2 linked regions of the Homo sapiens genome follow. The protein of the gene in region 1 interacts with the protein of each later gene in a pairwise test. Each region holds a gene or a part of one and is shown in the gene's direction. Other genes may lie near its edges.

Region 1 (5,225 bases):
TGTACTTCTGGGCACCTCTTCTGTTTTGTTTTCTTTCTTTCTTTTTTTTTTTTTTTGAGACAGAGTTTCACTCTTGTTGCCCAGGCTGGAGTGCAATGGTGTGATCTTAGCTCACCTCAACCTCCGCCTCCCAGGTTCAAGTGATTCTTCTGCCTCAGCCTCCCTAGTAGCTGGGATTACAGGCATGTACCACCACGCCCAGCTGATTTTGTATTTTTAGTAGAGATGGGGTTTCTCCGTGTTGGTCAGGCTGGTCTCGAACTCTCGACCTCAGGTGATCCGTCCGCCTCGGCCTCCCAAAGTGCTGGGATTACAGGCATGAGCCACCGCGCCCAGCCATTGTTTTGTTTTCTTTATGATAAATTCCTAGAACTATGACACGGTGAAAGTGTAGACTTACCAGTCTGGGTTAAATGTTTTAATTTCGGATAAGTGAGGCTTCCATATCTTTGGTTGTTTATATCTTTTTTTTTTCCTTTCTCTTTTTTTAGTTATTTTTATTTTTTTGAGACAGAGTCTCACTCCGTTGCCCAGGCTAGAGTGCAGTGGCATGACCTTTGCTCTTTGCAACCTCTGCCTCCTGGGCTCAAGCACGATCCTCCTGCCTCAGCCTCCCAAATTGCTGGGATTACAGGTGTGTGCTACCACGCCCAGCTAATTTTTGTATTTTTTTGCAGAGACGGGGTTTCGTAATGGTGGCCATGCTGGTCTCAAACTTCTGGGCTCAAGAGATCCGCCCACCTCTGCCTCCTAGAGTGCTGGGATTACAGGCGTGAGCTGTCACACCTGGCCTTATATTTATTCTTATGTAGGTTCATCCCGTTGCTTGCTTTCTGGTGTATCTTCTCAACTGGTCAGTCCCAGGATCTGAGAGACGGCTGAGTTTGCATCCTCCGCTCTTTGTTTTGAAGCAGCCCTCTCGGAACCTGGTCACTATAGCCTGTGGGGGGTACTCTCAGGAGCCCCCCCCCCCCTGGGCACAACTGGAGGCCCTGAAAGGACACTGCGGGTGCCCTGTCTTGCTGGCCTGGCCCCCTGGGGGTCTCCTGTAGCTGGAGCAGAAAGAAGAGCTCTAGGAAGGGATTGTGTGGCTTCTAGAGGACCCAGGCCACTGGCCTATGCCAGGCACCCGGAGGAAGCGGAAAAGCAGCCCTTCTAAATGCATTCCGTCTGCTTCAGTGGCACAGCTGTCCCAAGCCCAAATATGGGAGCTTTCCTCCACTTTCTCCCCAAGGAGTCCCTCAGGCTGGAGGGAAAGTCGCTGCTTGGGAAGCAGGAATCCCAGCACCTTGTAGCGAGAGTGTAGGGCAGGATCCAGCAGATATGCTGAGGGCGGCCTTAGGCAGTCATTCAAGGCCTTAGCTTCCCAGTGGTGAAAGAGGTTGGGTTGCAGGCCTCCTGAGCTCCTTCCATTCTGTCGTCCATGTTCTCCCCTTGTCCGGCCCTGCGGGACACCCAGCCCGTCCGGGATTTCCTTGCTGTGGGGCTGCCGGAGGCTACATGAAGGGCAGTGGTCAGGGCCCACTAAGGGGCTCCCTGAGCTGGTGCCAGCCGCCGGCTTCTCTGATAGCAGCATTGCTCGTTTCCTCGTGTGTCCCTCTCTTGTGGAATAAGTGCTAGTGTCCAGCCAGGTTTCTAACTTCCCGCTGAGCTCCTGGGATGTGGTGGCTGGAATTCTGCAGTGTACAAAACAGCACCTAGAATTTGGCGGGGATAGGAACGGGTTCTTAGGAAGCTTCCATCAGCCCCCAGACGGCCTGGCATGGCTTACCCAGGAAGCAGGAGTTCCCAGCAGCCAAGTGGGTAACTGGGTCTGCCTGCTCCAACCTCAAGGGAGCTGTCTGCAGGCCCAGCTTCTACTCCTTTCCTGCCACACGCTCATGTGCTGCCCCTTCCCTTCCTGAGGGGACTCCAGCTCCCCTCCCTGGATGCTCATCCCCCAACCGCAACTCAAGGTCCTGTGTTGTCCCGCTCCCCCCGCCACACCCCTTTCCCTGTCCTGGGTCAGGCTGGGACAGACATGCTTCACCGTGCATAACTGGGGCAGGCGGCCTTCCCTGCGGTCTTGGCAGTCAGCATACTTGCCTTCCAGATGACTGGCCCACAGGGAGGAGGGAACGTGCCATTTTCTTGACCAGTCTCTGGGAACCCAGCTTTGGGGCTACTGCTCTGTGGGGCCTTCTGGCAAGTGCCAGGGTTTAGGCAACTTCCAGGCACTGGTGAGGATGATCTCAGATAGCTGCCGCCCACCTGACGTTATAGACCTCTGGACTTAGAGGCTTGTGATGGAGGGCATGGCACAGCAGGGGTGGGAAGGTCAAAACGGGAGCCTCAGCTGGGTCTCATCCATGGCTTCTCAGAAGAATCAGGACTGATGTTGGAGAGTCCTACCCCTTGGGGTCTACACGGACTTTGGGTTTTGTTTTGTTTTTTGTTTTTGTTTTTGTTGGAGACGGAGTTTTGTTCTTGTTGCCCAGGCGGGAGTGCAATGGCGCGATCTCAACTCACTGCAACCTCCGCCTCCCGGGTTCGAGCGATTCTCCTTGCCTCAGCCTCCCGAGTAGCTGGGATTACAGGCATGCACCACTACGCCCGGCTAATTTGTATTTTTAGTAGAGATGGGGTTTCTCCATATTGGTCAGGCTGGTCTCGAACTCTGAACCTCAGGTGGTCCGCCCACCTCGGCCTCCGAAAGTGCTGGGATTACAGGCGTGAGCCGCTGCGCCCGGCCTTGTTTGGTTTTAATAGAGACATTATCTCCCTATGTTGCCCAGGCTGGTCTTGAACTCCTGAGCCCATGTGATCCTCCCACCTCAGCTTCCCAAAGTGTTGGGATTACAGGTGTGTGCCACTGCACCCGGCCTTACTGTATCTTTACATCCTGTCTTACCTGATCCTCACAACCACATATGACTTCGTCATTTCTGTCCTATAGCTAGATGAGAACACTGAGACCCAAAGAAGTCAAACAAAAATGTATGAGGCTCATTCTTTTCCTCCTCCTCCACAGAATTAGGAATTCCGTGCTGTGTCAGTAAAGGGGAAGGGCGGGTTGCTGGCACCACTGCCCCCAGCTGCCAGGGCTCCCACCAGTATAGTGGCCCATTTGGATTGGGCTGATTGGGGTATGAGACGCCTGCGTGACTTTCCTTCGCTGGAACCTGTGTCCTGCAGAGGAGGCACATCAGGCAGTGCACTCCCACTTGCCGGATAGAGAAACTGATGCTTAAAGGTGAGTAACTGGCCCAAAATGTGCCAGCCAATCAGTGACAGAACCAGGACTCCAGCGGGGACACCGATGGCCATGGTTACCTGGCTTCCTGTTGAGGGAAGGGATGCACAGCTGGCTCCTGACGTTGGCTTCTCTTGCAGGTGCGCTGGTACCCTTCCTCTGACACCACCCAGCAAGGATGGAAGTACCGTCAGTTCTGTTAGTTTTTCAGTAAGTGTTGGCCCCAGAGGCCCAGGACAAGTGTCCTAGACTCCGGCTCCCTGAAGGGCCGTAGTTCCTCCCTCTGCCCCGGGTCTCAAGAGCTTAGCCGAGCCCAGAGCAGGCCTGGCTTTAGCTCTAGTCCCACGCCTCTGCTCACGGCCGCCTCTCTCCCTCCCTCCAGGTCTGGTCACCGGGGAGGTGGTTCTGGTAATCTGTGGTGGTGCCGGGACAGGCGCCCCGAGTTCCCACTGCCCCCGGGCGGCCTGCACAGAGCTGCTGCCCTCCAGAGACTGTGAATCCCAAGCCTGACTCAGTGGACTGCTTCCTGTTCCCCTCCCTCCTCTTCCTCACCTTGTTCTGCACCCTCAAGCCTTTCTCCAATGCCTCCCAGGAGGATTTGGGGACTTTCTCCCTGGGGCGCCCAGATCCAGCTCGGAGGCCTCACTGGGACCTGGCAAGGCCTGACCTCCCGCCCAAACTTGCTTCTGTAGCTCCCCCTCGAGGAAGTGAGGTGTTTAATTTTGCATGTTTTCTGGCATGAATTAAGACACTTATACTTGTATATATGAGTGTACAGTTTGTTCTCACACTGTCACCATAGCGACAGGTCCTGGCTCCCAGTGGTTCATCCTGCCTGCCCCTCTCTCCTCGCCCCGCCCCTGCACCCACCCCGCTTCAGGGAGGCCCAAGTTCCGTGGCCCCACACGCTTCCAGGCTCAGCTCCCACCTCCACCCAACAGATAGATGGGGTTTGCTTTTTCATTTCACATGGGGCTCCTCCGCTCCTGCCTTCTCGGATGGGCCAACAGTCGTAAGAAAGCCCTCTCTGCCCGTTCTGTTCACCTCTCCACAGCGCACCCCGCCCGCCGCTGCTCCTCATTCTTTCCAAACCTCGAAACCAACCAAAACGTGAGAAGTATTTTTGTACCCTGTGTAACAAAATATTTATGCATCATAAAGGATTTTTCATGTGCGTACCATTAATTATTAAAGCGACCTCGTTCGCCCTGTCAGATAAGTTTAATGTTTAGTTTGAGGCATGAAGAAGAAAAGGGTTTCCATTCTTCAGCAGTACGCCTTTGTGTCTGGCATTTGTTTAAGAAAATGAAATGAAGGAAACACTGTGCAATGTTTTTTGTTTTGAGCATATCAGTGCTTTACTGTCAGCCGCAGCTGTGACCGTCTGGCCATTTCAGACTTGGGAGATGAGGCGGCTGTTGTCATTGCTGATCCTGTGAGAATGTGAAACTGGATAATATATGAAATGCAAAATAAAACAAAACCAAAATGACTGCTCTCGGCCTTTGCTTCCCCCTTCCGTGGACGCAGACTGCCATTGGGAAGGCAGAGCCAGAGAGATGTGGAGTCGGGGGAAGGAAGTGAAGTGGGCCTGGCCCGCTGGCAGCTGGCTTGTGACTGTAAAGGTGGTGGGGGAGGACCTTGGAGCTCACTTAGCCTCTCCTGCCTCCCTGGTTTGTAAGCTGGGGAAACAAAGTCCAGGGTAAGTGACTTGCCTAAGGGCCTGGCAGTTGTGGCTTTACTTCCTCAGTTTCCAGGCTGTCAGGGTAGGGAGAGACTCCCTACACCAAGAGCAGGCCCCCAGGTGGGACCTTCCTGGGGGAAGGCGGTGATATACTCGGCTTAACCATTTACGGCCTGTGGTCTTTTTGAGTCTCGCTCTGGTAAAAGAGGACTGAGGTTTGGGCTGTTGGGCTCTGCCAGGTGGTGTCTGTCCTTGGCGTGCCTCTTGTGAGGCTGTGCTGGAGGGAAGGCTAGGACCTGGAATCTTGCC
Region 2 (7,322 bases), on another chromosome or scaffold:
CTTCACCTGCTGGGATTAGTTTCCCCTGTCTCAGTAAATTTTTTTTCCCAAACTAAGTGAACATTAGATTTAATTTGGCTGGCCCCAGAAGAAAAACATGCACAGATGGTAGTTTTACTGGTGTTGCAGTAAGTTTTCAAATTTGGAAGTTTGGCAGCTTTATGATCTTGAACCTTGCTGTCCATCTCTCACACAACTCCTCTCTTGGCCTCCAGAGTCCCTTTACTCTCCCAGCTTTCCTCCTGCCCCTGGCTGCTGTTTCCCAGCCTTTCCACATTGGCTTTCCCATGTAGTCCTTAGTGTGTCTGCTCCTCCTCTCTCTCCTCATCACAGTTCCCAGCCCCCACCTTCAACTGAACTCAACAAAATCTTCAACTTCATACAGTAGTCACATTGTTAGTAATAACACTGGCATTTTTATTTTGATAAAATAGACCGTTTAAATTTTTGAGATTCTACCTTATATTTTTTGAATTATATACTAAAGCAAATAAGTAGTGATGTAATGTCATTGGGGACCAAGATTTTTAGTGTAAATGAAAAAAGATAACAAATATAAACTCAAGTAAACACCCTGTAGTCTTTCACATGAATTGGAAATATCAGAATAAAGTCATGATTTTTCTCTTTCTAAAAAATATGTATTTCCCTAGTTAAGTCCCCTGAAAAGGTCTAAATATAATGACACCCCAGTAACACTGAGCAGCACTAGTATACAGACTGTGGTCTCTATAAGTGCCATTTCTGACTAAGAACTAGGGACTTTTGTGAAAACAGCTGATTCCAGGTCTGGGGCAAGAAATGTGCAAAATGTGTCCAGGATATTTTGTGCCAGGAAGCAAAGAGTCCTCCAAGACTACTGTGGCCAAGTCAAAGGAACTCAGGAGCCAGTCTGAAGGGCTGTCACTCACCAAAGGTGGGACATGTTGAGCAGCAAAAAGAACCACAGTGGTTTGAAGCACATCAAATATGCCTGAATGTGTAAGTTCATGTTGATACTCATATACCTCATTGAAATCACCTTTGAAGAGTACTAGGAACCCACTCATTATTTTGAAAAATTTTTTATATATAAAATAATCCAGCATGTTCTCTATTTTTCTTATATGTGAACAAGTAACCAACTTTTTTTTTTTTTTTTTTTTGAGACAGGGTCTTGTGCTGTCACCCAGGCTAGAGTGCAATGGTGAGATTTTGGCTCACTGCAACCTCCGCCTCCTGGGTTCAAGTGATTCTCGTGCTTCAGCCTCCTGAGTAGCTGGGATTACAGGTGCGCGCCACCATGCCAGGCTAATTTTTGTATTTTTATTAGAGGCGGGGTTTTGCCATGTTGGCCAGGCTGGTCTCAAACTTCTGACTTCAGGTAATCTGCCCGCCTCAGCCTCCCAAAGTGCTGGGATTATAGGTGTGAGCCACTGTGCCCAGCCTAAGTAACCAAATTTCTGATGAAGAGGTTATTTATGGAAGAATCACAACTAATAACTTCAGAGAAAATACTAGAATTCAAAAACCACTATTTGCTATTAATTAATCTAGTGATGGATACAGGTAATGATGATCAAGGGCTACTAAAACTATTAGGGGAAAGGTTGATTGGGCTTCTTAAAATAGGTAGACCAGGATGACACCACTGATCAATCCTGATGCCAAAGGAAGGCAACCAGACATCTTGTGCTTCTGATGGGATCCAATAGGATACAAGGGATATGATACCATACAATATTATCTATGAAGTGTGCTTTTACCAAATTAAACCTAAATCTCATCTAGCCTTAGCTCTCACTACAAGCATATGGGAAAGGGGCAGAAGGCAGTCAGAAACAAGTGAAACAAAAAGGATGTAATTAGTTAAATTCAAAATGTGTGACACCCTATAGGATAAATGATCCAGTTTCTTCAATAAAGAGAAGGCAAAAGGGGGAATGGAGAAAGAAAGAAGAAAGGGAGGGAGGGAAGAAGGGAGGAAGGAAGGAAAGAAAGAAAGATGGCAGGCAGGCAGGTATTCATTTGTACTGATTCATACTGCAGCTTCAAGAAACCAAGGCAGCCAATAAAATTAAATTTTCTTTTTTTTTTTTTTGACACGGAGTCTCGCACTGTCACTGGAGTGCAGTGGCACAATCTTGGCTCACTGCAACCTCCGCCTCCCGGGTTCAAGCGATTCTCCTGCCTCAGCCTCCCAAGTAGCTCGGATTACAGGCGCTCGCCACCACGCCCAGCTAATGTTTGTATTTTTAGTAGAGACGGGGTTTCACCACGTTAGCCAGGCTGGTCTTGAACTCCTGACCTCGTGATTCACCCGCCTTGGCCTCCCAAAGTGCTGGGATTACAGGTGTGAGCCACCTCGCCTGGCCTCTAAGTTTTTCTTGTTGGTAAACATCTGAGCAAGCAAAAATTTAAGTTTTGACAGGAAAAAAAAAAGACAATCAAATGCAATATTTGGACCTTGTTTTGATCCTGATTCTACTATCGTATAAAGACATTTTTGAGACAAGGAAAACTGAACACGGTCTGGGTGTTAGATGATACTAAGAAATTAATTTGATGGTATTCATAATGGCATAGTTAATGGTATTTTTTTTTTCTTGACACTGAGTTTCACTCTATCGCCCAGGCTGGAGTGCAGTGACGCGATCTCGGCTCACTGCAACCTCTGTCTCCCGGGTTCAAACAATTCTCCTGCCTCAGCCTCCCGAGTAGCTGGAACCACAGGCGCACGCCACCACGGCCGGCTAATTTTCGTATTTTTAGTAGAGACAGGGTTTCACCATGTTGGCCAGGCGGGTTTCAAACCCCTGACCTCAGGTGATCCGCCCACCTCGACCTCCCAGAGTGCTGGGATTACAGGTGTGAGCCACTGAGCCCAGCGTTAATGGTATTTTTTAAAAATAGTTCTTATCGGCCGGGCCGAGATCGCGCCACTGCACTCCAGCCTGGGCGACAGAGCGAGACTCCGTCTCAAAAAAAAAAAAATAGTTCTTATCTGTTAAGGAGACATAATGGCGCATTTATGACTGAGTTGATGTCTGGAATTTGCTTTAACATACTCCAGCAAAAAAATATAAAAATAAGAAAAGTATAAGGCCATGCGCAGTGGCTCATGCCTGTAATCCCAGCACTCTGGGAGGCCGAGGCGAGTGGATCACTTGAGATCAGAAGTTTGCTACCAGCCTGGCCAACATGGTGAAACCCCGCCTCTACTAAAAATACAAAAATTAGCCGGGTGTGGTAGTACACACCTGTAATCCCAGCTACTAGGGAAGCTGAGGCAGGAGAATCCCTTGAGTCCAGGAGGTGGAGGTTGCAGTGAGCCGAGGTCACACTACTGCAATCCAGCCTGGGCGACAGAGCGAGACTCCGTCTCAAAAAAAAAAAAAAAAAAAAGAAGAAGGTACTTTGTAACATTCTCCCCGCCCTTGAGAATGTACTTTATAAGCCTATCCCAAACCTGTAAGAACTAATGATAATCCCACCACCCTTTGCTGACTCCTTTTTCGGACTCAGCCCGCCTGCACCCAGGTGAAATAAACAGCCTTGTTGCTCACACAAAGCCTGCTTGGTGGTCTCTTCACACGGACGCGCGTGACAAAGAAGTATAGATCAAGTGAAATCCAGAAGTGTTGAATATTGGTAGCGTTTGAGATGTACTTAAGAGTGCGTTATACTATTCCCCTTAATGTGCATGTTTGAAAATACTCAGAATAAAACACTTGTGAGGGCTACGGGAAAAAAAAAAGGGTCAGCTGTGGCCCAAGAAAGGACAGGGACCAAGCCCACGGACGTGCTCCTCTGAGTTGCACTAGTCTCTGGGCCTTGGCTCCCACCCTGAACAGCTCTCATCTTTAAATGTCTTCAGCTGTCCTCCTCCAGGAAGCCGGGTCAGGCGCTTCCTCCCGGGCGTCTCCGGTCTTCCTGGAAACCACAGGTCGGGTGTCAACCTACTCCAGGATAGGGGCCCCGAGGGGCCAGCCAGGCCTCCCAGCCTTGCCCAACCCTGGGGTTGACACGGACTTTAGCGTCTTTTTAAACTTCCGGCGCGGGCTCTGCGGTGGCACAGGAGGGTCCTCCAAACTTTCCTGCGATCTCAAAGGTCCAGATTCCACATTGGGGATGGGCCCAACTGACTTTGCTTCGCTCTCATTAGCCGGTGGTCCTCCAGGAAAGCGGGGCCGCCTCTCCGCTGTGCTCTCATAGGCCCAGGTTCTTGCGTTCGTGTGTCCTTCTCTCACTCTGATTGGCCTATATTCCCCCTGAGGGTGTGGCCAAATCTCATTGGCTCTCGCGCCCGAATGTATGACGTCATGCGCCAGCGCCCGTCGCTTTTGCTGGACGTCATCCTCGGGAGCCCACCCGGACGAAGGGGGAGAGTAGACAGCAGAACCAGCGGCGGCGGCTAAGCAGAGACTGTAGTAGCGGCGACAGCGACGACGGCAGCGATGGCTGGGGCGGGGCCAGCCCCGGGACTCCCGGGTGCAGGAGGACCCGTGGTCCCGGGTCCTGGCGCTGGCATCCCGGGCAAAAGCGGCGAGGAACGCTTGAAGGAAATGGAGGCGGAGATGGCCCTGTAAGGCCCGCGACAGAGAGTGATAAAAGTCGTCCCAGAGCCAGAGCCACCGAATCTCGGAGCCTCCAGGCCTCGATAGGCCGGAGATACGGCTCTAACATGGGGAAGTGGGACCTTCGGGATTGTGGGGGCGGGGATAGGGGAGAGGTTGGCAGGGGTGAGGGTCCCCTCGCGATATACCCACAGTTCCAAAATTGGTACGAGGTCCTGAGCGCTGATGTCTGTTCTACTCCTCCAGGTTTGAGCAGGAAGTTCTGGGGGCTCCAGTACCTGGAATCCCAACTGCTGTGCCTGCGGTGCCCACTGTCCCCACGGTCCCCACAGTAGAAGCGATGCAGGTCCCAGCGGCTCCTGTGATCCGCCCAATTATCGCGACCAACACATACCAGCAGGTACGGCTGAGCTAAGGCATGTAAGTCAGGGAACACAATGCCTCGAACAGAGTAGGTGTTTGTGTACAGAGAGCTGTTGACGTTTTGGCTTGTTGACTAATTAGCATGACAAATATTTTATATGCCAGGCACTGAGAACACAGTAATGACTGAGAGAGACATTTCTGCCCTGTGGGAGCTTATATTCTAGAACATGTTGTCCAGTAGAGCTTTCTGCAATGACGAGACTGTTCTGATATATTTAAAATTTATATTTAATAGTTCGTTATTCTCATTAGTCACATTTCAAGTGCTCAGTAGCCAACTATATATGACTAGTAGAGAAAGAGAGAGAAATTATTAAGATGAAAATAGGCTGGGCGCTGGGCGTGGTGGCTCACACCTGTAATCCCAGCACTTTGGGAGACCAAGGCGGGCAGATCACGAGGTCAAGAGATCGAGTCCATCCTGGCCAACATGGTGAAACCCCATCTCTACTAAAATTACAAAAATTAGCTGGGTGTGGTGGCACGTGCCTGTAGTCCCAGCTACTTGGGAGGCTGAGGCAGGAGAATCGCTTGAACCCAGGAAGCGGAGGTTGCAGTGAGCTGAGATTGCGCCACTGCACTGGAGCCTGGTGACAGAGCGAGACTCCGTCTCAAAAAAAAAAAAAAAGCCCTGAGGCAGGTGCATACCTGTTGTGTTGTTGTGTTCAAGGAACAGCAAGGAGACCAGTGACAGTGGAGTGAGCAAAGAGGAAAGTGGGAGGAGATAAGGACAGAGAGGTGAGGCCAAATCTTGTAGAGCCTTATGGCCATTTTAAGAACCCTGGTGGCCAGGCACGGTTGCTCACGCCTGTAATCCCAGCACTTTGGGAAGCCAAGGCGGGTAGATCACAAGGTCAGGAGTTCAAGACCAACCTGGCCAACATGGTGCAACCCCGTCTCTATTAAAAATACAAAAATTAGGCGGGCGTGTCGGCGGGCGCCTATAATCCCAGCTACTCCGGAGGCTGAGGCAGGAATATCACTTGAACCCAGGAGGCGGAGGTTGCAGTGAGCCAAGCTCGTGCCACTGCACTCCAGCCTGGACAATAGAGCGAGACTCCGTCTCAAAAAAAAGACTGTAAGGGACAAGGGCAGAAGCCAGGAGATGGAGGAAGGGGCTAGTACAGTAATCTAGACAGGAGTTAATGGTGGCTTGGATGGAGGTTGTGCATGGGAGATGGGGAGGACAGGTTGGACACAGTTTCAGTGGGTGCTAAGTGCTGTGGGGAAGATGAAATAAGGTGGTGAGAGAAGTTGCTGCTCAGAGAGCCCTAGTGTGATCCAAAAAGCCTCCCCGAGAAGTGGCATTTTAGCTAAGACCTGAGATAGCCAGCCACATACAGAGCACAAAGCATGAAGCTCTTGGTCTCTTGGGGTGAGCTGGCCGCAGCAGATGGGAATGCTGAGTCAGGCCCCTCACCCTGACCTCTTCCTCGACAGGTCCAGCAGACTCTGGAGGCCCGAGCAGCTGCTGCAGCCACAGTAGTTCCTCCCATGGTGGGTGGCCCTCCTTTTGTAGGCCCTGGTAAGTAAAGAGTAGCAAGGTGAGGGGGTTGGGCAATCAGGCAGGGTGGTAAAAAGGTGTGCACAGGACTCTCCTCCCACCATCCTTGCCTCTCCCCTCCCAACAGTTGGCTTTGGCCCTGGTGATCGGAGTCACCTGGACAGCCCAGAGGCTCGAGAAGCCATGTTCCTGCGGCGGGCAGGTGAGTCTGGGGCCAGGGACCCCCACATTTAATCAGGCACTCTTGTTTACATGACTTCAGCCTCTTGCCTAAATCCTTGCTCTAAATTACCCTTTGCCTTTGATCCCAACTTGATGTTGTCATCCTAAAGCACGAACCTGATCATGTCCTTTCTGATGATGTCAATTTTGTTTTAACCTGATCATTGCAAACCAACCCTCCTGCTGTCAGTCCTAATTCCCAGTTACCACAGCACTTAACACCTCATAACAAGCTATATAATTTCTTATTTACTATGGCTATCATCTTTTGCATCCTCTAAAATAAAAGCTCCATGAGGGGCAGAAGTCTCAGTATCTGCCACATAGGAAGCATTATGTACTGTCTGTTGATGGGATGAACGGACTGTTGAGACAAGCGCCAGGCTTTTCCCCTGGCAGTCACAACCCTACATGACCTTGCTTCTTGCAGGGAGAGATCCCCAGCAGCCCGAACATTTCTGGGATGTGCCAGCAGTGCTTTTGTTAAGGTCCCTTCTCTCCCTGCTCACTGTCACCCAGCTGTAATCTTCCAGCCATCCTTCCCCCCCAGGCCATTTTCTACATTCCACCTTTTGTTCTTCAGGTAACCTTTACTCACACTGTCAATTTGTAGG

What was found. Proteins that work in one complex are often made in the same cells at the same time.
Region 2: the proteins of RBPMS2 (region 1) and RBM42 interact in binary tests that used the Homo sapiens proteins (3 or more experiments, as listed by UniProt).

Annotation. Positions count from the first base shown.
Region 1 is NC_000015.10:64,739,390-64,744,614, reverse strand, and holds the end of RBPMS2 (RNA-binding protein with multiple splicing 2), read left to right. Parts: intron 1-3,372; coding exon 3,373-3,435; 3' UTR 3,436-3,442; intron 3,443-3,614; 3' UTR 3,615-4,724; downstream 4,725-5,225.
Region 2 is NC_000019.10:35,624,718-35,632,039, forward strand, and holds the start of RBM42 (RNA-binding protein 42), read left to right. Parts: upstream 1-4,318; 5' UTR 4,319-4,436; coding exon 4,437-4,564; intron 4,565-4,802; coding exon 4,803-4,956; intron 4,957-6,422; coding exon 6,423-6,507; intron 6,508-6,613; coding exon 6,614-6,688; intron 6,689-7,322. UniProt on the Homo sapiens protein: Binds (via the RRM domain) to the 3'-untranslated region (UTR) of CDKN1A mRNA.